Linked DNA regions of Homo sapiens. The protein of the gene in region 4 interacts with the protein of the main gene of each other region in a pairwise test. Each region holds a gene or a part of one and is shown on either strand. Other genes may lie near its edges.

What was found.
Region 1: the proteins of CCDC6 (region 4) and RALBP1 interact in binary tests that used the Homo sapiens proteins (3 or more experiments, as listed by UniProt).
Region 2: the proteins of CCDC6 (region 4) and HMG20A interact in binary tests that used the Homo sapiens proteins (3 or more experiments, as listed by UniProt).
Region 3: the proteins of CCDC6 (region 4) and MAPK7 interact in binary tests that used the Homo sapiens proteins (3 or more experiments, as listed by UniProt).

The regions. Positions count from the first base shown.
Region 1 is NC_000018.10:9,533,923-9,539,452, reverse strand, and holds the end of RALBP1 (ralA-binding protein 1), read right to left. Parts: intron 3,783-5,530; coding exon 3,516-3,782; 3' UTR 1,339-3,515; downstream 1-1,338. UniProt on the Homo sapiens protein: Multifunctional protein that functions as a downstream effector of RALA and RALB. As a GTPase-activating protein/GAP can inactivate CDC42 and RAC1 by stimulating their GTPase activity.
Region 2 is NC_000015.10:77,479,312-77,486,955, forward strand, and holds the end of HMG20A (high mobility group protein 20A), read left to right. Parts: coding exon 1-4; 3' UTR 5-10; exon of another isoform or gene 11-3,658; 3' UTR 3,659-6,292; downstream 6,293-7,644. UniProt on the Homo sapiens protein: Plays a role in neuronal differentiation as chromatin-associated protein. Acts as inhibitor of HMG20B. Overcomes the repressive effects of the neuronal silencer REST and induces the activation of neuronal-specific genes.
Region 3 is NC_000017.11:19,373,919-19,382,346, reverse strand, and holds the start of MAPK7 (mitogen-activated protein kinase 7), read right to left. Parts: upstream 3,850-8,428; 5' UTR 3,717-3,849; exon of another isoform or gene 3,452-3,716; 5' UTR 3,447-3,451; coding exon 3,215-3,446; intron 2,566-3,214; coding exon 2,400-2,565; intron 1,864-2,399; coding exon of another isoform or gene 1,846-1,863; intron 1,740-1,845; coding exon 661-1,739; intron 567-660; coding exon 1-566. UniProt on the Homo sapiens protein: Plays a role in various cellular processes such as proliferation, differentiation and cell survival. The upstream activator of MAPK7 is the MAPK kinase MAP2K5.
Region 4 is NC_000010.11:59,903,557-59,911,276, forward strand, and holds the start of CCDC6 (coiled-coil domain-containing protein 6), read right to left. Parts: upstream 3,001-7,720; 5' UTR 2,869-3,000; coding exon 2,566-2,868; intron 1-2,565.

The DNA.
Region 1 (5,530 bases), on a different chromosome or scaffold from region 4:
TTGGAGTATGACGCCAAAAGCCCTATGCCAGGTACTTACTAGCCATTATTTATCTAAGCAGCCTTTGGAAATCAAGATTATCTCCACCATTTTGCCAATGAAAAAACTGAAGTTCAACAAGACTGCTTTTGAAGGTTATGAAGAAAACCCAGACTTTCCTGCCTACACTGGGTGCGGTGGCTCAAGCCTATAATCCCAGCACTTTGGGAGGCCGAGGTGGGTGGATTGCCTGAGCTCAGGAGTTCAAGACCAGCCTGAGCAATACGGTAAAACCCCGTCTCTACTAAAATACAAAAAATTAGCCAGGCATGGTAGTGGTGTGCACCTGTAGTCCCAGCTACTTGGGAGGCTGAGGCAGGAGAATTGCTTGAACTGGGAGGCAGAGGTTGCAGTGAGCTGAGATCACACCACTGCACTCCAACCTGGGCAACAGAGTGAGACTCTGTCTCCAAAAACAAACAAATAAAAAAAGCCTTTCCTGCCTAAAGTCCACGTTCCTTCCAGTACCCGCACTGTTTGTCTAGAAGCCAGTTTCTAGCACGAGACCCGGGAACAGCTCAGCACGATGTCCGGTCACAGCACTTGACACTTGAGCTAGGCGGTGGGAGCAGAGGTCGGATGTCCGAGATCTGCTGGGGCTGAACTGAACACCTGTTGAATCATGCTTGTCTAGTAACAGCAAAGTCACCAGAATGCAGAGAATGAGCATCCATCACTTTGCAGGTTCGGAGGACCCGGCATGTGACGGGCAGCAGTACTCTTCCTGCTCTGCAAAAGAGCCCCTACATGTGGCATTTAAGGGCTTTCTGCCCCCTCCTCTGCCCAGGCTTGCTATCACGTCTCCTGGGTCTCCTGGGATCTAGTCTAGAACATTCCAGGGGGCACTGCCCACCTTCCCTAAAAGCTGTGGGATCTTATGCTGAAGCCTCTGCCTGCTAATTGACTCCGGCTTTTCCTTCTATCCCTCATGAGAACCATGGGCCAGGGCTGAGGCTGAACACATGGAATTGGGCACGGGTCCCCATCGAGAGCTCCAGAAAGCCCAGGCTGCATCTTGCTCAGCCTGGCTGGACGCAGAAGGTGTGTTTGTTCTTAAGATATCCTAATACATAACAAGCAATGTGCTCTTCACAGAAACAGCTGCAGTGAAAAAAAAAAAAGATCACACAGCACTAGAGCCCATCTTGGGAGGTGACCTCAGGTCTCACACCTCAGTATCTCCAGATCCCCAATGCTAAATGTACCCCATCAGGGCGTTTGAGACTTTCCATCAAGGAGAATTTAGCTATATAAATTTAACATTATAGATTTAACTACACAAAACAGAGAAGTCAGCTGTTTGTCTAAGCTTTCAATGACAGATATTTTAATTGTGGAATTTTTAAAGCAAACAAAGCAATGGAAACTTCATTTTTATTCTAGACCAGTCTATCCCAGACATGCTGATTATGGTTGGCTGTGCTGAGTCCTCATTTACCGTATGAAATGCAAATGTCTGTCAATTGCAATGCCTGGGGCCAAGCCAGGCCAGTGGACTTGTGTGCAGTTCCCACCGGAGCCAGGAGCTGCTCAGACAGCAGACCCAGCCCAGTCCACTGGGTTTTGCAAACACAGGCTCCCTCTGCAGCAGCATGGGCTTGTGGAAGGGAGGCATGCCGCCGCCAGCATGCATGCCAGGGGTCCGGGGTTCTCCCCGTGTCTGCAGAGGTGAGGGGTACAAAGTGAGCTGGAAACAAAACACTGTGTTCCCCCTTGGCCTTGAAGAAGTGCCTCAACCAACTCCTCGCCAGCTGCAGAGTACTCAATCTCCTCACAGAAAGAATGTGTACAAAAAAACTAGAAGCTTTTCTTTTTCCCAAATGGCTGTTGAATTTATTTGCTTGATCAATAATGGTCCTGGCAAAAATTAGTTAACCAATGCTGAGACATTTGTAATGAAATACTAATTTTAAAAATCCATGACACCTTGATAGAAATTAGAGTTTACACAAACAAAAAAGGAACCTTCGATATTGCCAGCAGCTATAAAGTGAACGTACTGAGACCGACAGGACAGCAAGAAGGCATTTGCACATTTATATCTGACACCCGACCATACTTTCAGTCACCAGAATATCTTCTCTCCAGATTTAAAAAAATAGTATGCTGATTTCTATAACAAAGCTTTTTTTCGTACAAAAATCAAATAATGGCCAACGAGTCACAACAGTGCAATAGGTAGAGGATTAAAAACTGCATCAAACAGGTGCTGAAAATAAATACTACCTAGGAGAAGGAGGTGAGAGCCCTCGTGTGGGGTTTGTTTTCGACCCCTTGAGTGTGTGTGGGGTTTGTCTTCCGAGCCACGAGCCTGGCCTGTCTCGCGGTGCTGTTCACTCTGACAGAGTGCGCCTGCAGCACGTTGCCTCCAGGGCCCAGCCTCCCAGAAGCCTCAGAGCATCAGAGCATCCGTCTCATCGGATGGACCAGAAACAAGAAAATGGGGTGGGGTGAATCACAGCTATCATTCAAAGGAAAGGAATTTTTTTCTATTGCTCAATCTTGTCAATTGGGAGTCCACCAGTAGGTTCACTGAGATGATATGGATAATTTCAAACTTTTGTTTAAGAGCATATATATGGCTTATTCAGGCAAGGAGACGTGTACATTCTAGCCCAAGCAAGCAATCGGAGTCATTCTGTTTTTAAGGAAGGTCAGTCGTTTAAAAGATTTCTGGTTTGAACAACATCCTCTGTGGATGCACCAGGCCAAGGTGACTACCTTTGACCAACCCAGTGAGAAGGCCTTTGCTGGTCCCCGCAGTGAGGAACTGGCAGGAACGGGCAGCCTCCTCCCCGCTGGACTGCACTGCCGGGGGCCGGTGGGCAGGCTCCACAGGCAGCCCCTGTCTGTGGCCAGACAGGCCGTCCTGGTGACTCGGGCTTATAGACTGTGGTTTAGAACTGCAGAAGGAGAGAGGAGAGTGGGCCAGGGAACACCCACCAGGCGCTGCTCTGACCAGTCAGAGAACGTGAGGCAGCTCCCCCATAGGGATCTGCACCGAGAAGGTGTGGAAGGCACAAGCAAGAGTGACGGTACCAGAGATCCCAGAGGGCGTGGCTCGCGGCGGCCACAGCAGGCGCAGCGCTGACCTGGGGTGGTTCCCCCCTTGAATGAGAAAGAGATCCTGATTCTGCTGTGATAAAAAAGCAAAGAAAGACGGTTTTTGGTTTAAAAAGAAGCCACTCAAGGGTTAAAATAGTTATTTTAAGTTAACAAAGAAAATTAATCTTCAAATAAGCTGACACTATCTGGAAAACTCATCTGTCCCTAAAGCCCACAATGCGTCCACTGCTTCGTCCTCCCATGGAACCTGAGCCTGACGTGAAGGAGTCAGACGTGTGACAGAGGAAGAGTCTGAGAAGAGAAGACACCTTTACAGAATGTACAGCGAGAGAGCCGGCCTGGCCCCCGGGTTACAGTAAGATGCACGGGTCCTTTCAGTCTCACGGACTCCAGACGGCCACGCAGGCTGCTCAGATGGACGTCTCCTTCCTATCCCTGCTGGGCGATGGCTTTGCCGGCTCCTTGCCTGCCTTTGGCTGCTCTTTAGCTGCTTTTGGCTCAAGGACGCCGTCTCTGGGCGGCTGGACGGCACCCCCGCGCCACTCAGGCTCCTCGTCCTCCTGCGCCTGCTGCTCGGCCTTGGCTCGCTGCATCTGGAGCAGCCGCAGCTGCACGCGCAGCTCGATGATGGCCTCGCGCTCCTCATGAATTGCTTGATTCAAATGATTGTTCTTTATCTTGGGGAATGACAGAAAGGGCAGTTATCACTTAAGGAAGTCAGAGGACGATTTCTCAGGAGCAGAGCGCGGTTAGCAAGGGCATCCTACAGAGGAATCTGGTTTTGTTTAAGTCAATGGGTTGTGAAACAGAAGACAAACACAGCAGGAATGCACAGTGCACAGTGAGCCACGTGACTCCTGAGAATGTGAGGCTGGAAACCCTGCTCCTGGTTACTAGAGAGAAACACATCCATGTGCCAACAGAAACCGTTATTTTAATAATTCAGTATCCTAGTGTTTAAAATAGACAACTTATAACTTTGAACTGGCTTCTCAACAGCCCTTAAACAAGGAGAAAATAAAAGTAATTTTAGCAGCAATTAGAAAGGGGAGTTAGAGATCAGATAAAAAACTAGATTTGTTTCAAAGGTGAATATCCTTTGTCTTTTGTGAATAGTATTACGGTAATTCTGAAATGTCCTACTCAATCAAACTACAGAAAATTACTATCAATTCTAAATCATCTGGATGTACTCGGCAAAGTTTAGGTCCTGAGGAATAGCAGCGGCCCTGCTGCCGTGGCCTCCACTCTGTGGCAGGTGCCAGCCTCCCCTGCGTGGGTGTGGCATGGACTAGGCTCTGCGAAGGGGGCATAGGTGTAAGCGCAAGCACCGAGTGCCACGCATGCACCCTGCCCTTGGCGACTGGGCATGCCTTGATCCCTTCCCTGCTAACTTAGTCCTGCTAAGAGTGGCAAGACAGAGCAGCCACATTGGACCCTACATGGAAAAAAGTGGTGTGGAGGATGATGGGCTGGACCGCCTGCCACACAAGAGACACCATCTTGTTTAAACCACTATGTTATTCTCTTTATTACAGCAATTCAGCCTACACCCCAAGTACAATACTTCTGGATTCTGTTTTCCTACTCAGAGTTTTAATACGATCTTAAAATGTTAAGAAAAGAACATCAGGTGCCAATGTGAGGCCTTTCTGAACAGGAGCTCCAGCAACCCTGGTCTCAGCACCTGCAGGGCTTCCTCCCACAGCACATTCCTGCCGCAGCAAGGGTCTCTGCCTTGAACCTTCGTGGTTGCCTCTGAGCTCTGCCCGCAGGCTCGGCAGAGAGGACTCTGTGCAGGGTGGCTGTGTGTGGAATTCTGCTTTTCTATGCAGGGTGTAGTTCTGGTTCGCACCAGCCACTGAGCGAACCCAAATGAGGGATGCAGAGCTGTCCCTCTATCCTTAGATTCCTTTCTGTGAAGAGGGTATCTTCTCTCACTCAATCCTTAGGCAAAATATCTGGACACAATATTTTATTTGGGGTAAGAAGGGAAACTGTGATCTAGACCTTTATCTCTGCTGCCTTCTCTTCACTGTGCAGCCTCTCCTAGTTTCTTAGCGCCGATTCCCTCTCACCTGCTGCTTCTCGGGCTGAGGCCAAGAGAAACTCCGTCTCTTGCTTCACCCACAGGGAGACTCGGGAGACTGTTCTTCCATCACTAGCGCTGATTTTTCTGTTCACCTTCTCTGGGAACAGAGACTAGGTCATTCAAAGCTGCTCAAGCTGACACAGTCAGGTGAGGCTTGCCTTTACATCGGGTGGAGAAAGGTCTACATGTCACACTAAAGTCACAGAACTCCAGTTCACAGCCTGAGGAAGACACACAGGTGCCATCTGCTTGGCCAGCACTTAGCTCAAGTCCCACAGACTCTCGGTGAGATGTCCCCCTAAATTCCTCTCTACTCAGCCTCCCAGCTGGTGA
Region 2 (7,644 bases), on a different chromosome or scaffold from region 4:
TTAGGGAATGGTGAGTGCTCACTGATAAATATTTATATGCCAGCACATCATCAAAAATAAGATGTCATCAGACTTTATCAATACTACTAAAACCCTGGGATTACATTGGATGAACAAGTTGGAGACTTGGTTAAGATTCCTGTTGCATGGTTGTTAAATGTAGTAAATAATATTAGAAAAGAGAATCACTGTAGTCCCAGCTACTTGGGAGGCTGAGGTGGGAGGATTGCTTGAGCCCAGCAGTTCAAGTCCAGAGAGATCCTGTCTCTAAAAATAAAAGAAAACAGACTCAAGACAGTTTTTTCTTATGCTTGCTTCAGAATGGTTTAATGGGAAAAGCATGGTTTTTGTGGCTTGACCTCATTTCTAGCTTTGTCACTTATTAGCTGTATTCTTGGGCATTAGTTTCCCAAAAGGTTTTGAAAAGTGAGTGGGAAACTTAGAAGAAATCATCCCCAAAACAGCACTCAGAACAAAATAAATATAACTTAATTTTTAATCTTCCTTTTCTCTGGAAAATACTAATGATAATTTAGAAGTAGTCAGTGAGACATTGTATGTATGTGAGCCTACATAAGTAGGAAGCTTTTATATTCACCACTCAATAACACAGTGACTGTTGTCTGTTAAATGTTGATGTGGACTCACCATACAAACAGGTAACTCCCTGGTTTTGATAGATTAAAAAATAAACTCTTCAGCCAGGTGCAATGGCTCACACCTGTAAGCCTAGCAGTTTGGGAGGTCAAGGCAGGCAGATCGCTGGAGTCCAGGTTCAAGACCAGTCTGGGCAACATGACAAAACCCCGTATCTACAAAAAATACAAAAAATTAGCCAGGCATGGTGGTATGCGCTTGTGGTCCCAGCTGCTTGGGAGGCTAAAGTGGGAGGATCACTTGGGCTTAGAAGGTCAAGGCGAGGCTGCAGTGAGCCATTATCAGACCACTGCATGCCAGCCTGGGTGACAGAGCAAGACACTGTCTCAAAAATTTTTTTAAATAAAAAATAAATAAACTCTTGGTGGGGCACAGTGGCTCACACCTGTAGTCCTAGCACTTTGGGAGGTTGAGGCAGTATTGCCTGAGCCCAGGAGTTCAAGACCAGCTTGGGCAAAATAGTGAGACCCCTGCTTTAAAAAAAAATGAAAAAAATTAGCTGAGCATGATGGCGCACACCTATAGTCCTAGCTACTCAGGAGGCTGAGGCAGGAGGATCACTTAATCCCAGGAGTTCAGGTTTCAGTAAGCTAGGGTCACACTAGTGTATTCTAGCCAGGGTAACAGAGCAAGATTCTGTCTCAAAAAAAAAAAAAACAAAATAAAAATATAAAATTCTCAATAAGCAAAAAAGAGAGAGAAAATAAGTTTTTAAAAAATATGTTCAACAAATGAGCAGTAGTATGTATCCTTTTTTTTTTTTTTTTCCAGAAGAGATCTACCCATGACACTTTTTGGTACTAATGGTCATTTCTCAAATGGAATTGGTATTTATTCATTCAAATTCCTAGAGATAGGATACCCCTTTACTATGCCATCCCACAAAACTGGCATCCCTTTGCTCTATTGGTTAAGTTATTCCATACCTGCAGACATATAAACTGTGTGGAAATTTTAAGATTAGACTCTACAATGAGGTGGCCATATATGGATACTAAAATAAGAGTCAACAGCAGGATATGTTCCTTAGAATGGTCATGGGTTTGAATCTTTATTTGTCCTGTGAGTACATGAGCACACTCATATACATAATTTATATTCTGGTTTGGTTTGGACTTTGAGCAACATATATAAAGATAAATGCCTAGTAAAGACAAAGGCAGAAGTCTTTATACTTCTTGGTGATGCCCTTGGATGGTAACTGTACAAGGCAATGCATTATATTTTAGCCTCAGCCATGCTCTGATGGGGAAAGGATTACTATCCTTCTAGGGAGTAGCCAGATGGAATGGACTGTACTTCTTAGAGATGGCTGGACTCCCTGCAGAATAAAGAAGTGGCATTACTGCTGCTGCTTATGAAGGGAACAGCTTGTAAATCTAGGCCTGGGATATTCAGGAGCTCATCATCCTTCCCATTTTCGTACAGTGTTTTCAATTAGCACTCTTGTAGGCTTGAAAAGTGAGAGCTGGGAGAAACAGTGTGGAAGATTGTGAAAGAAAACATTAATTGATAACATCGTGTCTCTTCACATAGATACAGGGCAGCTAATTAAGTATTGACCCAAAAGTGGTTTTCCATTTTGAGCATTTTGCCAGTAAGACTCTCCTAAAGCTTTTTTCATCTCAAGAGTATAAACTATATTATTTGTTTTCTGATGAGTCTTTGAAAACTTAGAATATTACTATTATCCTTGATTTTAACCTACAAATATTTTGCCCCTGAAAAAATAGCTAAAAGTGTGAACTGTTATATTACTACAGATTCTTACAGTCTAGCCATGCAAACATAACTAACAATAGATGGTTCCCCACACCCCCAAAACTGTCAAAGGAAACAATTACAAAGACTGTGATTAATACTGGTTTGGCCTCATTATACAAATATGTACAGACAGCGAGGCTGATGTCCCCAGCACTCATGATGCAATTAATTACTCTGACAAGAGTTTGGCAAAGTTTTCATCCACTGTCAGGAGCCAGTGAGTGAAGGGAAGCTAATGGTCTACAAGTTTCAGAGGAGCATATTAGGGACCTTTAGAAATCTAACATTTTATATATGAAGAAACTGAATCCCAGAGAGGAGAAACATCTTGCTTGAAAATATCTGCGTAGATGAGTACAGAATCCAAGACTAGAACCACAGATATCTAAACTCTCTCATTCACTGGGTTTCTAAAACATTGCTCTAAGGAAGAGGTGGATGGGGGAAGGGGAAAGCACTAAAAAATCCTGAAATAGAGCATTAAGATACATAGGAAGTAAACAGATAAAAATTGTAATCCAGGAATTATAATGTTATAGAATTTTAGCTCATTTTAAAATTATTTTGATAAATATACAGTGGAAGAATTACCCTACCTGTCTGTCACCTTTCTTGTAGCTGAGTAGTACCTAGAGACAAGTGGAGCTAGGAGGAGGCCATGAGGGTGATTTTAAGTTGAAAGGTGACTACCTTATATAAACTATTAAAATGCATATGTTGCCTGATTTCAATGATAATATTTGGCTGTTTGAGTTTAGGGAAAAAAAATCTTATGTGACTGTATTTTTATTAATATGAGAAATGTTCTTGATTATATGCACATAATACATCTCTATACATGCAGATATCCTTAGTTAACACTTGAAGAAAATTGGTTTTGATTGACCATACATTCTTCAGACTAAAGTAGGGTACTCATTTTCCCTCCTCAGGTTTGTCCCTGATAGTTGCTTTTCTGTGTTTAGCTGATGATTTTCCTACCTCCCATTGTTGCTGAACTGGAACAGGGCCATGTTTCTCATTGAAATGTTATGTAAAACATCTCAATGAGGTTGCCTGCTTACAGCTTTATGAGTTCTTCAGTTTACATACACCCTGCACTCACTTTAACGCTTATGAAACCAAAGCATTTTTAAAATCCATAGCGCTAACCCCTTCCATTCAATACTTACTTTCTTGGTGTTATTTTCCTTGTTTGTTTTTGTTTTTGTTTTGTTTTGTTTTCCTGATTCTACAGGTCTTAGAACTCCAAGATGTTCCATAAGTGTTTTTACTTGTGAGGAATGAGAAGCCATCCATGGAAATTTGAACTGAGTGGGGGCAGAGAAAGAGTGCAGATCCCTTTGCTTGTGAAAGAATTATCAGTGAGTGAAAGGCCATCACCCCAGGAAGCCAAATGAGGGAGCAGCAACATGTATATGAGCTTCCTATGGAATTGTCCTTATGTGAAGCTTTGAAGGTGTACAGCCACTCTCCCGGGTCTTCAGGTTCCTACCATTTCCATTTCTGTTAAAGTGGATCTGCATATCTTCAGCTTACTAGGTGACCCGGATGCTGACATCTGCTGCTGCAGAAAGGAAGACTTTTCATTGTAATTTCGCTTAGACCCTTTTATCAGTGGAGCTCCAGTTTTCTTACCTAGCTGTCACTTTTTTAAATGCCTCTGGGGGTTATTTTTGCTTTCCTTGGCCCCCACCAATTTATACATCTCCATTTTCTGACCTCTGGACTAACTGGTTGCTCAGCAAGGTTCTGAAGGAGAGTTTCTTGCATTGGACAGGCCCAGTCTTCTCCCATCATTGCCCTGCTGTGACTCCAAAGAAAGGAGCTTCTTGCTGACAGTGCCCTGTGGAGCAAGGCTGTGTTTCCTACCCCACACGGTGCTCAGTGGGTGCCAGCCCTCAGTGTGGCTTTGTGATTGCTGCCCTAAAGGAGAATGCTCTTTCCTTCCTCACTGGTACTGCCTGCTGTTTTCTAAGCATTGCTCCTGCACAGACATGGAGTCCCAGCCCCAGCAAGGCTCTTCTGTTCCCATCTGTTGACAATGTCTTGTGGAGCATTTTTGCTGAGGAAAAGGTCACTTGTAAACAGAGGAGAAAGGGAAAGAGTACAAAGCCCTAAGTTTATTGTAAGTGAAAACTGAGGGAATTCCTGTCTTCTTTAGGAGTAATGATTCATAGATCTAGATAGGTGGAAATATCATTCAAAATAGTCACTTGAGCTCACAAAAAAAGCAAGGAAGAATTCTCATGTCCTTTGTCTTCCTTCTGTAGCCATTAACTGCTGAATCCATGTGAGGAAGACAGGCTTCCCTTCCTTCCCCCTCCTTAGTGATTTTTTCTTTAACAGCATAAGTAAAGAGGACTTTCTGGTTCATTTTTGTTTGTTTTGTTTTGTTTTGTTTTGTTTACAGATGAGGTCTTCCTGTGTTGCCCAGGCTGGAGTGCGGTGGCTATTCACAGATGCTATCATAGCACACTACAGCCTACAACTCTTGGGCTCAAGCATCACGCCTAGCAGTTTCTGGTTCCTTTAACAGCAAAAGGAAAGAGAGGTTCTGATTCTTACCTCAGGGTTTTTTGGTTGTTCATTGTTTTTGTTTTTGTTTTTGTTTTGACACTGCAGAGCACAAGGCTAAAGGTTACAGCTGAGATCTTTGGAACCAAAGGCAGAGCAAGCAGAGCCCGTTGTCTGGGCCCCACACCACTGCAGGCAGGTGGATAGAAGTGCGGCCCCTCTCATAGTATGCCCATAAGTCAGGGCATAGGGCAGAACTACCTGTCATGTTGCTACACCATCCTGTCTTCTCAGCATCTCCTTGCCTGTTTTCTTTATTAGTCCAAAGGAAAACAACAGCAACAAAATCTGTTTTTAAAATGTCTTATATGAACATATATCAAATATCCATGCGCTGAAACCCACATACCATCACTTGGCAATTTTTTAGAATAAGACCCCATTATTATCTATTGCTATAAACCTAGCCAGTTCTCTTGCTCTTCTGTATTTTCCTATTTCCCTGCCATCATCTGCTATTTCTGCCACTTCTCTTAGACTCCTTGTCTGCAAAGCCCAAGCTAGAACTCACTGTCTATGGCAGAAGGACATCCAGAGCCCATTCTGGAGTTTTGTTTTTTCCTTCTGCCAGATGCTTTGTGTCCTGTCTTCCTTCCTCCTCATATTTCTGTTTCTCATTTGTGTTCAGTTTTGTGCAGCATTGCTAGCACTGCTTTTGTGACCAGAAAAGGCCATAACATGGTCCAGGATCATCATTCTTCTGACTCTAGATGGGACACTTGACAGTGACTTGAAACATTTGCATATTCAGGAATGCATGAGATTTCAAGAGAGCCTACAGTATGAAATCATTTTCACAAAATAAGCAGCTTGCTTCTGAAATGCTGTCTTTCCCAGTAGCTACTCACCTGCCTCTGGTGGCTGGGATTCAGATGCCACAAAACTGTCAGTATCTATAGACCAGGTCTGTGCCACCTCCTCTCTCCTCTGTGCTCAGTGAGGAGGCAGTAAATGAAGTTACAGGCTAGCACAATACCTAACTCATGTTTCCCAGTACACCTGTAGATATTACTGTACTTTTATGTTCTCAAGAAATAAGTTGTTGCCTATTCAGTGTTACAGATTTCTTTGTTTCTTTTTAATTAAAATACAAGAAGCAGCTGAGGAAAGGGAGACAAGGTATTTTATTTCTGACTGATTTTAGAAAAAACTTGTGTACATGTGTTTGGAACTGTTGAAATGCCAAGTTTTCTGTATAAGTGTTTTTGTAATTAAACTTTCAGATTTTCTTTGTTTTTTAAGAAGTTGATGTGCTTGTTTGACATTTGTCTCATTAAAACTTTTCTACGTTGAATTCACCTGTTTCAATTTTACTTGCTTTGTAACAAAAAGTCCTACCTCTGGCCGGGCACGGTGGCTCATGCCTGTAATCCCAACACTTTGGAAGGCCAAGGCAGGCAGATCACGAGGTCAAGAAATCGAGACCATCCTGGCCAACCTGGTGAAACCCCGTCTCTACTAAAAATACAAAAATTAGCCGGGCATGGTGGCATGAGCCTGTAGTCCCAGCTACTCAGGAGGCTTAGGCAGGAGAATCACTTGAACTTGGGAGGTGGAGGTTGCAGTGAGCCGAGATCGTGCCACTGCACTCCAGCCTGGCAACAGAGCGAGACTCCGTCTCAAAAAAATAAAAAATAAATAAAAAAGTTCTATTTCTGTTTTTTCCTCTTAAAGACTTTGTCAACTCTACATTAATCATGACATCTGTTATGCTTTTAAAACAGTAACACATTCATTTTACTAATTGCTACTTCAAAATGTATCTTTACCGGTTTGAGAAGTCAGCTCTTTTAATGTATGCTGTAACAATACAGTGAATTCTAATTCATTTTAATATAGCAGTAGTATTCTGAAGACAACTTACAAGGATGTTTTTAAAGTCAGTGACTCTGATGTCCCCTTGATAGAAGATCATTTGATAGAAGAAAGGAGATGTGCTTAAATGCTTGCTTTTTTTTTTTTTTTTTTGAGATGGAGTTTTGCTCTTGTTGCCCAGCCTGGAGTGCAGTGGCACGATCTCCGCTCACTGCAAACTCCGCCTTCCAGTTTCAAGCGATTCTCCTGCCTCAGCCTCCCGAGTAGCTGGGATTACAGGTGCACGCCACCATGCCCAGCTAATTTTTGTATTTTTAGTAGAGACAGGGTTTCACCATGTTGGCCAGGCTGGTCTTGAACTCCTGACCTTGTGATCCACCAGCCTCGGCCTCCCAAAGTGCTGGGATTACAGGCATGAGCCACCACGCCCAGCCAAATGCTTGCTTTTTGAAAATAACTAATCAAAATATTTTTAAAGGAAATTTGTCACCTATTTCTACTATGCTTTTAAAAATCCTAGGGGTGAGGCAACCTGGTTTCCAGAGCCTGCTGCTCTCCAAGTAGCCATTTGTGTGGCATTGGGCAAGTCTTGATTTGTTTCAACTCCAGTTTCCTCTTCTGACATAACACGTGCCTCAGCAATCCTGTACTATTGTAAGAAGGATAGAGTAAGGTAACAGAATCCACCTTGCCTTGGAGGACAGGAAGATAGGAAGTATCTGTTACATGATTGCCAGTAACTATCAGGGTATCTCAGTTAGGATTGAGTTTGGCTCTACATTAAGCAGAACTAGCAACAGCTTAAATAAGAAGTGTGTCTTTCTCATAGAA
Region 3 (8,428 bases), on a different chromosome or scaffold from region 4:
TGGGGTGCTGGAGCCAGGCAGCCCAGGGGGTGGCACAAGTGACTGGGCAGCCAGGAGGCTGGTGGAGGTGGCAATCTGGGGTGGCGCGGGGACAGGGATGGGCCCAGGAGGGCCAGTGGGGTGGGGTGCAGGGCCAGGGGGTGGGCAGGCAGGCTGGGGTACAGGGCCAGAGGTAGAGCCCGCAGATTGTGGTTGCGGGCCAGTGGGCTGGGCTACAGGGCCAGGAGGAGGACTGGTAGGTTGGACTGGGGTTGGGGTTGGCGTTGGCGCTGGGGCAGGGGCCGGCACAGAGGTGAGGGCTGGGGCTGCGGGCCGGGCCATTCGAGTCCAGCGTTCCAACAGGCTTCTGTCATTGTCACTGAGCACTAGTCCAGCCAAGGGGTCAGTGGAGGGGCCCCCAGAGGCCCCAGCCCCCCGTTCCTTTCGCTCCCGCTCCTGCCGCCGTTTCTCCCGCTCCTTGGCTCGTTCTTGCCGCCTCCGCCGCTTCTCCTCCCGCTCCCGCTGGCGCTCCTGGGCTGTCACCGGCTTCCGAGGCTCAGGAGCCTCCAGGGGTGCGCTGGGGCCATCTGCGGGGAAGTTGGGCAGGGGAGAAGGTAAAAGCCTGAAGCCTTGTCCAAGTCCAAGTCTCCCCTCTGCCCACCCGACCTGCCCACAAGGCACCTCTGAGCCGGCTCCTCAAAGACTTGAGCAGGGCAGCTTTAAGGGCAGCCTTAGTATTGTCTGAGATGGCACCATCTTTCTTTGGTGGGGCAGGCTCACTGACTGGTGGAGGTGGCTGCAGGGTCAGATCAATGGTGTCAGGTGCAGGGCCGGGGCATGGTGGCGGGGCTGGTGGTGGAGACTCCATGGCACAGTCCCCACTGGGAGCCCAGGGACTGGGCATTTCAACATCTGGACAGCCAGGCTCACTAGCCACAGGCTGTAGAGAAGGCTGGAAGCGGATCTGTTGGCGGATGCCCTCACGCCTTGCATGGAAGTCCTCAATTTCAGCCACAATGGCCTCCTTAATGCGCTCCCGAGTGAGGGCTTCGCGGTCAAAGGCAAAGTCAAAGGGCGGGGCACAGTCAGGCTCATCATCAGGATCATGGTACTTGGCCAGGAAAGGGTGGCGAAGGGCAGCAGCTGCTGAGATGCGAGCGCTGGGCTCAAAACGCAGCATGCGACCCAGCAGTGATAGGGCCTGGCGGTCGGCACCTGGGTACACTGTCTCCCAGGGCACAGGCTGGCGTGGTGGCAAGCTCTGGATATAGGCCCGCACCCTCTCAGCCCCCACAGCCTGAATCACGGCTGGTGATGGGGTACCCAGCACCATCATGATGAGCTGTAGCTGGTGTACATAGTTTTTGCCTGGGAAGAGCTGGCGCCGGGCCAGCATCTCACCAAAGATGCAGCCCACAGACCAGAGGTCAATAGCCTGTGTATACTCATGCAAAGAGAGCATGAGCTCGGGCGCACGGTACCAGCGCGTGGCCACATACTCAGTCATGAAGTACTGATGTTCAGCGGGCGAGGTGCACAGGCCACGAGCCATACCAAAGTCACCAATCTTGAGCTCACAGTTCTCATTCACCAATAGGTTGGAGGGCTTCAGGTCACGGTGGATGACCTGAGCCGAGTGCATGTACTTCAGGCCCCGCAGCAGTTGGTACAGGAAGTAGCGCACGTGTTCCAGTGTGAGGGGCTGTGAGGAGTGGATGATCTGGTGCAGGTCGCTTTCCATCAGGTCCAGGACCACGTAGCTGGAAGGGGAAGGAAGGAGAGAAGCATGGGTTGGCCTGATCACACTCCAGGGACAAGCCCCATCCTCACCACACCCTTCCGATTCCAGACAGGTAACAGCCTTACCCTGGGACCCCATAGGGGCTGACGGCATGGTATGGAAGAAGAGCATCACGTTTTAGATTCTCTACGACTTTTCCATGAACTTGGTTAAATCACTTTTGTCTCCAGACCTAGTTTCCCCATCAGATAAAAGATGGGGTTGGACTACACCAGGGCTGGCCAATAGGTTTCCTTTTGGGGCTATCTCCATTGTTTGGTAGTGGCAGCTTGAAGAACTATGATGAAAATTGACCAGGCTTGTCCACTGTCTGTAGGAAAGTGTTCTGTGATTGATTAGTGAAGTCTGCTATGGGAATAGGAGGGTGTGGTCATAGTAGGAATGTCCTACATTTGACATCCTATATACTAAGATTCTATAAAACTGTAAAATCATCTGTACACTTCTTGAGGAATAACAGTTGTCCCTGGCAAAACTCTAAAGAACTGGTCCTAGAACTGCGGGAATTTTCCCAGCCTGCTTCAGATTAGATTCAGCTGCCTTTCCAGAACTTCGGCAACATGGTTGCAGCCTTCAGAAAAGTCCCAAGTCTGGCTCCCTCTCCCATCCCGCTTCTTACACAGATTTGAATTCGCCATAGGGCACGGTGGGCCTCAGGATGTCCTTGATGGCGATGATGTTGTCGTGTTTAAAGTGCTTGAGGATCTTCAGCTCCCTGAGGGTCCGCTTGGCATTGGTCACCACATCGAAAGCATTAGGGATCTTCTTGATGGCCACCTGCTGGCCTGAGGAGCAGGGAAAAGGGACATACCAGAGGATACCTTGGAGAAACTGCAGAGTCGACTCAGCCCCTATCAACACCTCCCTTCTAGGATGCAAATGACAACAGCTACCAAGTATTGGGTACCTACTATGTGCCAAGCCCTGTGCTAAGCATGTTACCTACATTATTAAATGTTACCTTCACAACTCCCCTGCGGGGCAGGTCCCAATAGGTCAACGTTAAAGAGAAGGAAATATGGCTTAGTAACTTGTTGGAGGTTGCACGGATGCCCAGTGGTGTAGCTCAGCCTCTTATGCCTACACCCTCTCCATCTCAGACCTCACCCATCCCACCACCAGTTCCTTATGCCAGTGTCTGGCTCCAGAACACATTTCTCTCTTAGACACGAAGGACTGGCTCTCCATTCTGGTCTAACTGGGACTATCATTTTCCTAAGGAGGAAGTAGGCAGGCAGGATGGCAAAACCACCAGGCCGGAGTTTCAGAGAACCGAGCCTCCCCGGAGCCTGGCAGGCAGAAGGCCCTGGTCAGTGTGTGTTGACTGGAGCCAGAACTCGCACCCCGCTTTCCTTCCCGGCTGTCTGGGACAGGCCGGTTTCCCACTCCCTGCGACGCTGCCACATCTGGGAGGCGACGGCTCAGGAAGCTCACCGGTGAGGCGGCGGCGGGCGGAGGACACCACTCCATAGGCCCCGTTGCCTATGGTCTCGATGATCTCGTACTCGTCGCCCACGTCAAAGGTCACATCGAAGGAGCGGGCTTTAAGCAGGGCCAGGTTCTTGGCCGCTACAGAGGCAGCGGTGTGGGCGGGTTCGGCCTTCACGGGCCCGGGGGGCTCCGCAGAGCCGTCCTCGCCGTCTTCCTCCTTCAGAGGCTCGGCCATGGTGTCTGTGTGGAGACTCGGGTGAGGAGAGGACCACCTACCGTGGGCCTCAGTGTCCCCTCTGCGGGCTGGGGAGCAGGACCAGGGAACTTCCCAGTTTCCTAAACCGACAAGGGCAGAAGCGCGCGGCTGGTTCGTGGCAGACTAGCTACCCCAGGGGTCCGGGCCCAGAGCCGGGGGCCCGCCAGGGTCGGGGGAGGGGTAGGCGAGGCGCGGGCCAGGAAGAAAGGGAGGGGCGGGGCACCTGGGTTTCCTCAGGGCCGCACTCACCCCCGCGCCTCCTCAAGGCTTTCAGAGGTCCCGAGGCTCGCCGGCCTCCCGTCCCCAGCGCGGGGGTCTCCGAGGGTGGCTCACTTACTTGTTCAAAGGCCGCAGCCACCACCTCAGCGTCTTGAGCTGCCCTGTCCGTCCCCCTCCGCCCCGCCTCCCAAGGCCACGCTCCCTCCAGCTCCTGGCCAATCGCTGAGCTACTGCTGCGGAGGGTCCTGCCCCTTCTACCTACTGCGTCCAATCCTAGCCCACCGGCCGAGAAAGCCACGCCTGGCGCGCGCCGCTGTCCAGCTCGCCGGCGGGAGCCGCCCAAAGGGTGCCCGGCACTTCGCAGGGGTGTGCTCCCCGCCCTGCACCGCCTTCAAACGCATGCGCACTGGCAGTCGGGCGCCAAGTGAATGGAAGGCAACGCCCCTGCACGTAGCGCGCGCGTCCCCATGAAGCTCTCAACCTCATCCGGCCAATCACAGCTAGTCCCGTGAGCTCGGGGAACTGCCCGGCCTGAGATGCCCAGGTCTGGGACTGTTACCTTGGCTACTGGCTCCCGAAGTCCCCTTCCGCCCAGGGAATTGTGTCCGCCATTTGCTTGGTCCCAGGAGCTCTGGGAATGTGTCATCCCCGGTAGAGGGTGCCCGTCACGGCCAACCACAGAGATCCCGGTCCTCCGGGATTCTAGAGCGTCCGGCCGAACCCTCCACTGACTTCCGGTGGCTGAGCCTCTCCGCAGCTTCCGGCCAAGTTGGACTGCAGCTCGCGGTTTCCTGGCTTCTAGGTATCTTCCCTCCGCTCGTTTGTCTGTCCCGCGATTCCCGTGCTTTGGGCTGCAGCGGAGTTAACCGAGGCGGCCGCCCAACCTCTGCTCCTCTGCGGAGCCCGCGGGTGGGCGGAGCCCTCGCTGGAACCGAGCTGTCCCGACCCACCCCAAAATCCGATAGTTTATTCGTTCATTCATGTAGCAAATGTTTATGGAGCACCGCCCCTCTAAGGCTCAGTGCCGGGAGGCGAAGGTGGACATGGTGGATACTGTGAGCTGGAAGGAAAGGTTTTCTAAAGGGAGCTCGAGGTAGGGCCGAAAAGAAGTGAAGAATTTTGGTTTCACTCCTAGGCGGCTTCTAGAAAAAAGCAATATGTATGCATATTCGTACCTACCTCCCCTTTGGTGTACAAAAATGTAGCATATTATGCTCTTTTCCTGAAGATCATTCCATATCAATAACTGGAGGGGTCCCTCACTTTTAAACAACTTTTAATAACATACCATAAAACTCATCCTTTTATAGTGTACAATTCAGTGTTTTTTGGTATATTCACAGTTGAGCAGCCATCATCACTACCTAATTTTAGGTAGAGTGGTTTATGGAACATTTTCATCGCCCCTAAAAGAAACCTATGTGAACCAAGTATCTGAGACAAGTCTCAAGTCAATTTAGAAAGTTTATTTTGCCAATGTTAAGGACATGGTGGTGACAGCCTCAGGAGGTCCTACAACATGTGCCCAAGATGGTCGGGGCATAGTCAGCCTTTATACATTTCAGGAAGACATAATACATAAGTCAATACATGCAAGATTGACATTGATTTGATGTGCTTATTGGCCATTTGTCTCCTTTGGGGAAATGTCTGTTCAATGTCTATTCTGGAAGGGCGGGACAACTCAAAGGGGAGGGGCTTCCAAGTCACAGGTAGATTTAAACATATCCTGATTGGCAGTTGGTTACAAGAGTTATTATCTATAGAAAGGAATATCTGGGTTATGATAAGGGGTTGTGGAGACCTAGGGTTTTTTGGTTGTTTATTTTATTTTATTTTATTTTATTTTATTTTATTTTATTTTATTTTATTTGAAGAGTGAGTCTCACTCTGTTGCCCAGGCTGGAGTGCAGTGGTGCGATCTCGGCTCACTGCAACCTCCCCCTCCTGGTCTCCTGCCTCAGCCTCCCGAATAGCTGGGATCACAGGCATGAGCCATCAAGCCCGGCTTTTTTTTTTTTTTTTTTTTTTTTTTTGTATTTTAGTAGAGATGGGGTTTCACCCTGTTGGCCTGGCTGGTCTCGAACTCCTGACCTCAAGTCATCCACGCCCCCCTGCTCCCGGCCTCCCAAAGTGCTGGGATTACAGGCGTGAGCCACTGCACCTGGCCAGGAGACCTAGGTTTTATTATGCAGTTGAAGCCTCCCAGTAGCAGGCTATAGAGAGAATAGACAAATATTTCTTATCAGACTTAAGGTCAGTGTTGATGTTAATGTTGGAGGGGTATAATAAGGCATGTCCAACTCTCACCTCCCATCGTGGCCTGAACCAGTCTTTCAGGTTAAATTTTAGGGTGTGCTGGCCAAGGAGGGAGTCCATTCAGATGGTTGCAAAGGGCCTTCTAATTTTATTTTTGGTTTATACCCATTAACGGTCACTCCTCATTCCTCTTTCACCAGAGCCCTTGCAACCACTGAACTACTTTCTGTCTCTATGGACTTGCGTATTGTGGATGCTCTATACTAATGGAATCACACACTGTGTAGTCTTTTGTGTTTGGCTTATTTCACTTAGCATAAAGTTCATGTTGTCATATTAGCACTAATTTTTATGGCCAAATATATTGCATTGTTTAGATATACCATATTTTGTTTATCCATCAGTTTATGAACATTTGGGTTGTTTCAACTTTTTGGCTATTATGATAATGCTTCTGAGAACATTTGTTTACAAGTTTTTTTGTGGACATGTTTTCCTTTCTCTTGGGAGTGGGATTGCTGGGTCACATGGTAAACTATTAACTTCTTGAGAAAGTGCCAAGCTGTTTTCTCCAGCAGTTGCACCATTTTACAAATTCACCAGCAATATTTAAGAGTTCCGATTTCTCCACATCCTCACCAACACCTCTTTTCTTTTTCTGATACTGAGTCTCACTCTATCGCCCAGGCTGGAGTGCACTGGCACGATCTCGGCTCACTGCAACATCTGCACCCCAGGTTCAAGCAATTCTTCTCCCTCAGCTTCCCGAGTAGTTGGGATTACAGGTCCCCACCACCATGTCCAGCTAATTTTTATATTTTTATTAGAGATGGTCAGGCTGGTTTCGAACTCCTGACCTCAAGTGATCCACCTGCCTCAGCCTCCCAAAGTGCTGGGATTACAGGCATGAGCCACAGTACCCAGCCTTATTATTATTATTATTTTTTAATTATAGCCATCCTAGTGGGTGTGAAGTGATACGTCATTGTAGTTTTGATTTGCATTTCCCTAATGACTAAGGATGTTTTCACGGTTTATTGGCCATTTGTCTCCTTTGGGGAAATGTCTGTTCAATATCTATTCAAATCCTTTGACCTTTTTTTTTTTTCTTTTTGAGACAGGGTTTCACTCCAGCCCAGGCTAGAGTGCGGTGGTAGGATCTCAGCTCACTGCAGCCTCCGCCTCCCAAGCTCAAGTGATTCTCCTGCCTCAGCCTCTCAAGTAGCTAGGACTACAGGCACACATCATTGCACTCAGCTAATTTTTGTATTTTTAGCAGAGACAGGGTCTCACTGTGTTGGCCAGGCTAGTCTTGAACTCCTGAGCTCAAGTGATCGGCCTACGTCAGCCTCCCAAAGTGCTGGGATTACAGGCATGAGCCACCGCATCAGCCCTCTGTCCATTTTTAATTGGATTATTTGCCTTTTTATTGTTGAGCTGTCAGAGTTCTTTATATATTCTAAACAAAAGTCCCTTATCAGATGATTTACAGATACAGATATTACCTTATTAGATGATTTACAGATATTTACTTCCCATGATTTACAGATATTTACTTCCATTTCTCAGATCGTCTTTTCACTTTCTTGATAACATCCTCTGTTCCACAAAAGTTTTTAATTTTGATGAAGTCCAGTTATCTGTTTTGTCTTTTGTCACTTGTGCTATTGTCATATCTAAAAAAAAAGCACTCATTTTTACAGCTGCATGATATTCCTTTACGAATATAACCTATTTAACCAAGACCCCCTAGATAGACATTTAGATGAGTTCAGTTTTTTCACTATTGCAAACAATGCTGCAATAAATTTTCTTGAACACATCATTTTGCACACAGCAAGTGTATATGCAGGAAGAATACCAGAAGTGGGAGTGTCAAGTTAAAGAGTATTGTTCTTACAATTTTAGTAGCTAATGTCAAATTTCTATCCTTAGAGATTATACTGATTTAGACACCCACCAGTGGTATGAGAGAATGACTCACACGGTGCTTTTTAAAAGCTTGGAATTATTTGCCTGTCAAAAATGGGGAGATTTGCCATAAGAATCCTGATTTTTGCTTTCTTTTGGGAAATCAGATCAGCATTTCTACGTAGCCATCGAACTGTGACCCCGCCATTGAAAGAACATGTGCTCTCTAATTCACCACAGTCCCTGCCACTCCCTGACAGCCTCCCCAGCACAGGCCGAGGGTCAGATGCTACTTATCATTGTGCTTTCACAACTGTTTTCTACATCTTATTAAAAGCAGGAAAACAAAAGAGGCTGAGATGACATGTGTTTCAGGAAAAGAAAGACCAAGTATATCTTTTTGTGGGAACAAAGACAATCTCATGTGTTATATACAGATACTCCACTCACTTGGCTCACGTTTCCTGCATGGCCACAGTGGGCATTTGAGTTCAAGATTTCTGGTTTAGGTTACCAAAAGCCCCTGAACTAATGTAAATGTCTACCTAGGATTTTTGAGTAGACAAATGCCC
Region 4 (7,720 bases):
CAAGGAAAAAGAAGGCCACAATCACCTTTAGTGCCCAAGGACATGAACGTTAATATCATAATTAGAACTAAAAAGAGCCAGGAAGGCAATTACCAGAATTATGGTACCATCTTCCCTTCAAATTAACTAAAATAGTGAAAAATCTAACAAGGCCTTCACTTAATTATCAGAAACTTCCTAGCCTGCCACTAGCAAGGGTAATGCTTAAGTCAGCGATGTCAGGGATTGTACAGCTTAACCTTGACATAAACTACTTAAGTGTTGTTCAATGGACTCTACATTCACAGGCCCATTTCATGGAGTCACATAAATTTCTCCTCCCGCATTACATACCTGAGAGGTCAAACGTACCACCACAGAATCTGGATCCTAGGTCAGTTAACAAAACCTGCAAAATCTTGAAGGAATCTGTTTTCTGCATTTATCATTCAGCTCCTTAGTAACAACTGCCAAGTATTAGGAAACCAGGCGAACCACAAGCACTTTTTTATGTGTCTCCCTGAATATATTAGTCAGAAATTAAAGAAGAACTGAGAGGCTTCTGGTACTTGTGCAGTGTCATCTAAAACAATGTTAACTTTACTCATTAACACCACACGACATTTCACAAAGTATATTCGGTTGGATGTCAGTGTAGTTAAGGGTAAGTGCTAAGAAAGCAAGCCACCACCTTATACGCTCTTCTAGCCAAGTACTCAGAAGGCCTCTGATCTTAAACACCGGGAATGAACACATTTGTTCCTGCAAAGCCAACATGTTTAAGCACAATTTACAAACCTAGTTATAATACGGTCTAAGTGTCAAACAGATAACCCTTTCATAGTCTCTGCATCCCTCATTCCTCCCTCCCAAACAAAACCAGCCTGAATTGCCCACTGCATGCAAAAGGCTATTTTGCTTCATGCAAGTCTTACTACTTTCCATGGCTCACAGTCTCCAAGAGACTAACCCTCTCATTTACTAACTCAAACCTTAAACTGCCTCCAACAACTTCCCTCTCTTCTTAACCCCCACTCAGCAAAGACATCTCTGTCAGCGAAGAAAGCTGCATAGGAGGCTTGGAAGTGGCTGCCTCTGCAAATTCCCCGCCCCCCACCTTCCTACCAAAAGGGCACTTCAAGAACTTTACCATCTCACATGAAAGTTGCTCCAATTCCATTCTCCAAAATTGGATTTGAGCATGAAAAGTTTCTTTTTACAATCAACTGCTATTTAGGCTACTGATCACACTTAACTTGCAACTTGCTTTCTACACAAATTAAGAATGCCATCTAGTTCTCATGTATGAGCCAGCACTGGGGGTGTACACACGCGTGCGCACACATATACACAGCCTCCTCCACCGAAGGCATTTCCTGGCACAAGGGGCATCCTAAACTTGCTCCATTTCCAAGGTGTGACCCTCTATCCCCAAATTCATCCCTTTTTCTTCATTTCAAAGTTCAGCCTAATCCGCTATTTTGCAGCAGCTATGGCCATTTATCCCCCTTGATTTCTTGACATCATCTTCTCTGCTTCTGGCTGGGGAACTTTTGATTTGAATACAGTTGTCTGTGTGGGGATCCTTCATGTTAATGATGTGGTGAGCTGGCAGGGATGATAGGTGAGAGTACACAGTGTACTTTTTCTAGTTACGTTTCGCCTCATCACTGCTATAGGGGCCTTTCTAAACGCCTGCCACACCAGGAGAGAGACCTACAGACCCAAGCTTACCCGTTTCTGGGCAGCCTCCAGGGGACAGGTAGAAACAGAACAGATGGCCTGTTCTCCAGTATCTAGACTCAGAAGCAAGATACTTCTAACCACTCCACGAATGAAGCAAACACACGTACCTCTGGCTCAGCCAGGGAGTCACAGTCACTACCCTTCCCCTGGTTTCGGCCCCAGCCCTGTCCAGGCGTGGATGCTGCACTCTCCTCGCTGTAAACCGTCCACCCTCCCAACCCAAAGCAAAGAGCTTCCAACAGAGGTGGGAGCATTAGCGCCGTACCCGCCCTTCCCTCTCGATCCCGGCCAGAAAACTCCACTTCCCGGATTCCCGGCCACTCTCTCCCGCCCCCTCCCCGGGCGATCCAGCTAGCGCAGTCCAGATGCCAGCTTAGTGCCCAGTCCAGCTGCGAACCCCCACACTCCGAGCCAGGACCCAGTAAGAGATCCCAGCTTCCTCCCTCTTCCAGGACTGGGGTTCCCCAGATTCTGGACGCACCCCTCAAACATGCTAGGGCTGAAAAAAGTCCTACCCCGCCCCCCAGCCACGCCGCCAGCCTCCAGCCCAGCCCCGGAGGGGCCTCCTCTCCAGAGGCTAAAAGGGACCATGAATGGTTGCCACAGTAGCCTTCCCCCGCACCGCGCAAGGGTCCTCAGACCCCCGAGGAGGACAGACCCGCGTGGCCCCGAAGGGATACCTCCCTCTCCTCCCGGAAGCCAGCAGGTCCCCGCAGGGAGTGTGCTCTCAGAGGGTCCCCGGGAATCTGGGGAAGACTTGGGGGGTGGCTGGATTCGGGTGCAGCCCCTCCCGGGGCGGGCGGAGGTCGGCGCTGCGGCGCGTCCCCGGGGGGCACTCACGATGGTCACGCTGGCTTTGCGCAGGTCGCGGTTCTCCTCCTGCAGTGCCTTGCACTTCAGTTTGTAGGTCTCCAGCTCTATCTTCAGCACCTTGTTCTCTTGCTGCAGCGAGGCCAGGCGGTTGGTGAGCTCCTCCAGGCGGAACGGCGAGATGACAATGCCCCCCGACTTCCCACCGCCGCCGCCTCCCCCGCCGCCACCGCCGCCGCCCGAGGTCGACGAGCAGGACGACTGCATGGCGGCCGAGCTGCTGCTGTTGCCCCCCGCCCCGTCCGTGTCGCTCTCGCTGGCGCTGTCCGCCATGGCCGCGGCGGGCTGGGGAAAGGAGGAGGAGCAGCAGGGAGGCGGCGGCGACGAAGGCCGGGCTGCGAATGAGTGGGCGCCGGGCGAGCACAGGGGAGCGCCGAGCTGAGCGCCTGGCACCAGGGCGCAGACTCGGAGCGGCGGCGAGAGAAAGAGAGGGCGCTTCCCGCTGCCAAGGGACCTCCTCTGCCAGAGAACAGAGACCCCGCCCGGGCTTGGGCAGTATTGCACTGGGGCTCGCTCCAGCCGGGCTGGGCGCGCTCCCTAGGCCGCCCAGCAAAGCTGGCTGAAAGCTCCGGGACCCGCCCGCCGCCGTCTGGTGACCACGGGCGGGCTGGGAACGCGCAGGCACTGCGGGTGCGGGAAAGCCAAGGACTGCCCCCGCACCACCAGCTCGCCAGCCACACGTGTTCCAAGGGAGGGCCTCCGAGCCCCCTGATCTAAGCCCACGGCCGCCCAGCCTCTTCCGGGCTCGCGCCCGCCCCGAGAAAAAGGAAACCTGATGCCCCACCAGCCTCGCAGGTGCCGGGGACACGTGGAAAGGTCAGCCGGGCTCCGGCACCCATCCTCTACCGTGTTGTGGCCCCATCTTCCGCCGACTGTGTGTGCGCGTGTCTCCCTCTATCTGTTTCACACATACACGCAGTTTTATATTCTCAAAAGCAAGGTGTTTTTGACTAGGAAGGCTTGGATAAACCTAAGAGAACAAAGTTCCTCTACAAGAGGCCGAGGAGGATGAAACAACAGCAGCCACAGGTTAACCTTGTTAAGTAAGAATTTGCAGGAGAGACACACATCTCCTTTAATAACCTCATAAACCACACTGCGCTCAATTGTTTAAACAAGGTGCAACTGTTTTTTTCTTTTTCTCTTTGCATTTTGCAAACATTTCCAGCACATGTCTCGTAGTAGGATTAAGACAGTAACATTTACCTAATGAAGAAAAAAAAAAAGGAAGGCGAAACACTTTTAGTAGAAGATTGAAACACCTCTTTAAGTGCCAATTTTCCAAAGTAACTGCGGACATAACATTATGCTATACAAATAGTAATGATTGAGTGGGAGTGCAACATCACCCGTCTTTGCTATCCTCTTGCTCACTCCTAGAAAACTTTAGCATGTAAAAATAAAACAGTAATTACTGTAATGCGGTCTAATTCATGGTTCTAGCTTTGCAGTTTAAGAAATTAAAAATCAAAAACTTTTATTCCCCCTTCCTCTTCCCAAAGAAAGGCTTGCAGGAAATTGGCCCAGCAGGTGAGATGATTCTAAACACTTTGCCCTGTTGACACAAAACAGCTTTCACTTATGTATAAAAATTGGAAAGTGAAACTGACCAGACTAGTTTTATTACCCACGCTTAGTTAACATTACAACAAACACATGGTAATAGAAAATAGAAAAAAAAGTGTAATTTTTTTTTCTGTTGGGTTGAACTTTCTGAAAGATTTCTAAAGTGTTAGGAAGAAAGAAGAATGATTCTTATTCCCACTCCCTCATTATCTTTAAACCTAAATTTGATCTCATGATTAAACGGTGATTCAATGGCTCTTGGAAACTGGCACCTCAGAATAAACTCGAAAACACCAAGTGTTCCAAATGACATCATCTTTCACCAAGATGGCTGCTTTTAGCAAACAGCTTAAATGCCAACAGCAACTAAACCCCAGTTTCTCCCAGGTATTTTTTAGCTTAGTGCTGGAGGGCTTCTGAACTCTGTCACTGTTTGTATAGCAGGAGGGAGGAAATGCTTGGCTTTGCTCTTGAGAAACATATAGGCAATCTAAATCATTCTGTTACAAGTGATCCAGTTTAATTTGCACTGAAACTTAGTTCTCTCACTTTTTTGGGATCTAGTACATGAGACAATGAGTTAAATTGGAAACGGATTCTGGAAAGCTCACTTGAGGGTTGAAATGGAAGAGTAAAGCTAGCAGGGAGAAGCACCACAGGGGGAAACAGATTTAACAACATTCTTTCCCCTTTATTCAGCACTGTGATCGAATCTTAAGAGTAGGTCTGGCTGCCATACCTCACAAGTTTCTATTGCTCCCTATTCCATATTATCTTAAAGCTTCCACTTTTAGAGCTTATTGCAACAGGAACATTCCTTCCAGGCAGAGCAGGGGGCAAATTAACTCTCTCTTAGCGTCACCACAAAACTAACCGCCTTGGAAAGGCGGACTCACACTGCTTCAAGTCAGCAGAGGGGTGGAGTTTGAAGCGCCTGGTTTTCTTAAAGGGCCCAAGTCATGGTTAAGCTTAAGAATGTAGTGGCCTTCAGTGGAATTTGGAGGAAATTTGCATTTTGACATGGGACTTGTAGGTAGTAATCGTGGTTAGAAGACTTTAGGGAGAAAGCCATCTTCTAAAGCTTCCCTGCTGATACAGATGGGAATAAACTGGAGAATATTTTTTCACCGCGGTTTTTATTGTTATTGCAAAGCAGAAGCGTGTCTAATTTTCTACTTCTTGTAAAAGTGATTTCCCTTATAAACAGATCATTTATCACAACACTGGTTCCGTAATAGCATTACAATGGAAACACCAGTTACAAAACCAATAATATCATTATAAAATTCCTTCTCAGCTTTCTAGGGGAAATGAATCACAAGAACAAATGGTAGTATGTGCTGCCTGGAGGAAGAAGGGACAGATTTAGGTAATCACCTCCTTTGGAGAAATAATGAAATTTAGCTTTGCCCTCAATTTAAGCTGCAAAAACACATGAACAAAGGAAAAGAATACCTTGTAGTCTAACTGCAAGGCGCAACATCAAGATTTTTATTTGTCTAGTGCCATTTTTGCAAATCACTTACTCTATGGCCTTGGAACTTTAGTGTTTACAACAATAAAATAAAATAATAATGGCATAAATCATAGAGCAATTTTGTTAATTTTTAATATATATAAACAAATTGCTGTACATATCCAGTTACATTAATGTCAGATCTGAGTAATTTTATTCAAATTCTAAATGGATTTAGTTGTTGCAGGACCCACCATTACAGTTTTGAAAAAAATTAGGGTGAGCCAAGTATGAGCGGGATGTCACAGTGTCAGAAGTTGGATAGAAATATAGAAGAATGTGTCCATGTAGCCCTATCATTTCTCCTCCTTCTTTTTTTTTTTTAAGAGGCTAGGTCTCTCTATGTTGACCAGTCTCGTCTTGAATTCCTGGCTTTGAACTCCTGGCCTCAAGTGATCCTCCTGCCTTGGATTCCCAAAGTGTTGGGATGACCGGCGAGAGCCACTGTGCCCAGCCTAGGGCTATCATTTCTTGAAAAGTAGTTGATAGTTTCTTTATCTAATTACACCTTTAATTTAGAAGCTTTGTCTAGGTCTAGCAAGGCATTTCTGAACACTGACATTTGAGACTGGGTAATTTTTTGTTGTAGGGAGCTGTCCTGTGCATTGTAGGATGTTTAGCAGCCTCCCTAGCCTTTACCTAGTAGATTCCAGTAGTATGCCAGCCAAAAAATGTCTTCAGACATTGCCAAATATCCCCTGGGCAGCAAAATTACCTCCAGTTTGGAACCACTGAACTAGTAAAACAAAAGACAGCCCCATTTTGGAGTGGTTACACACTGATTAGATACCACTGAGTCACCAACAGAATTTCCTTCTCATTTTATCTTCTCAGTGTCAATTAGACAAGAGATCCTGGGCCCAAACAACCATATCCACACTTTATACTATTGCTGTCTTTAGCCACTCTATTTCTTTTTTTTTTTTTTCTTTTTTCTTTTTGAAGACCAAATTTCGCTCTATCACCCAGGCTGGAGTGCAATGGCACAATCTCTGCTCACTGCAACCTCCACCTCCTGGGTTCAAGCGATTCTCCTGCCTCAGCCTCCCGAGTAGCTGGGACTACAGGCACCAGCCACCACACCCAGCTAGTTTTTTGTATTTTCAGTAGAGACCAGGTTTCACCATGTTGGCCAGGCTTGTCTGAAACTCCTGACCTCAGGTGATCCACCCACCTCAGCCTCCCAAAGTAGGGGGATTACAGGCATGAGCCACCATGCCCGGCCCAGCCACTCTATTTCTACAACATGTTTTTTCAATATTTTACACTTTTTAACATTAAACTAGCCTTGCACATGCAACATCTCAACTTGTCAAGAGATCATGACTACAAGATTAATTACATATCTCATCCCTATGCTCCTGTTTTTATTCACTCATTATTGCTTCACAGGAACCAAAGCCATTAATACAGATGACAGTCTAAAGAAATAAGTCATCAGCTAAAGTAAATCATTTGAGAAGTAAGAATATCAGGCTGGGGGCAGTGGCTCATGCCTGTAATCCCAGCAATTTGGGAGGCTGAAGCAGGCGGATCACCTGAGGTCAGGAGTTTGAGACCAGCCTGACCAACATGGTGAAACCCCATCTCTACTAAAAATACAAAATTAGCTGGGCATGGTGGCACATGCCTGTAATCCCAGCTACTCGGGAGGCTGAGGCAGGACAATTGCTTGAACCCAGGAGGTGGAGGTTGCAGTGAGCCGAGAACACGTCACTGCACTCCAGCCTGGGCAACAAATGTGAAATTCAGTCTCGAAAAAAAAAAAAACAAAACACATATGATTTATGTGTCTGGAGCTTTGGCAGCCAGTAACATCTAAAACTTTGCCTGACACAGAACATCTAGAATTGCTGACCAGGAAATGCTGCTTTAATCCTATTCAATACACAGCAGAACTCAAAGAAAGTAAAGAGAAATCCCAGGCTCCAGTAGCAAAGAGGAAAATGAAACAACCCAAATGTCTGACTATAATACAAATCCTGTTGCGTTTGTGCAGTGGAATAATAACAGTAATGAGAATGAACAAACTGTGGCTACATG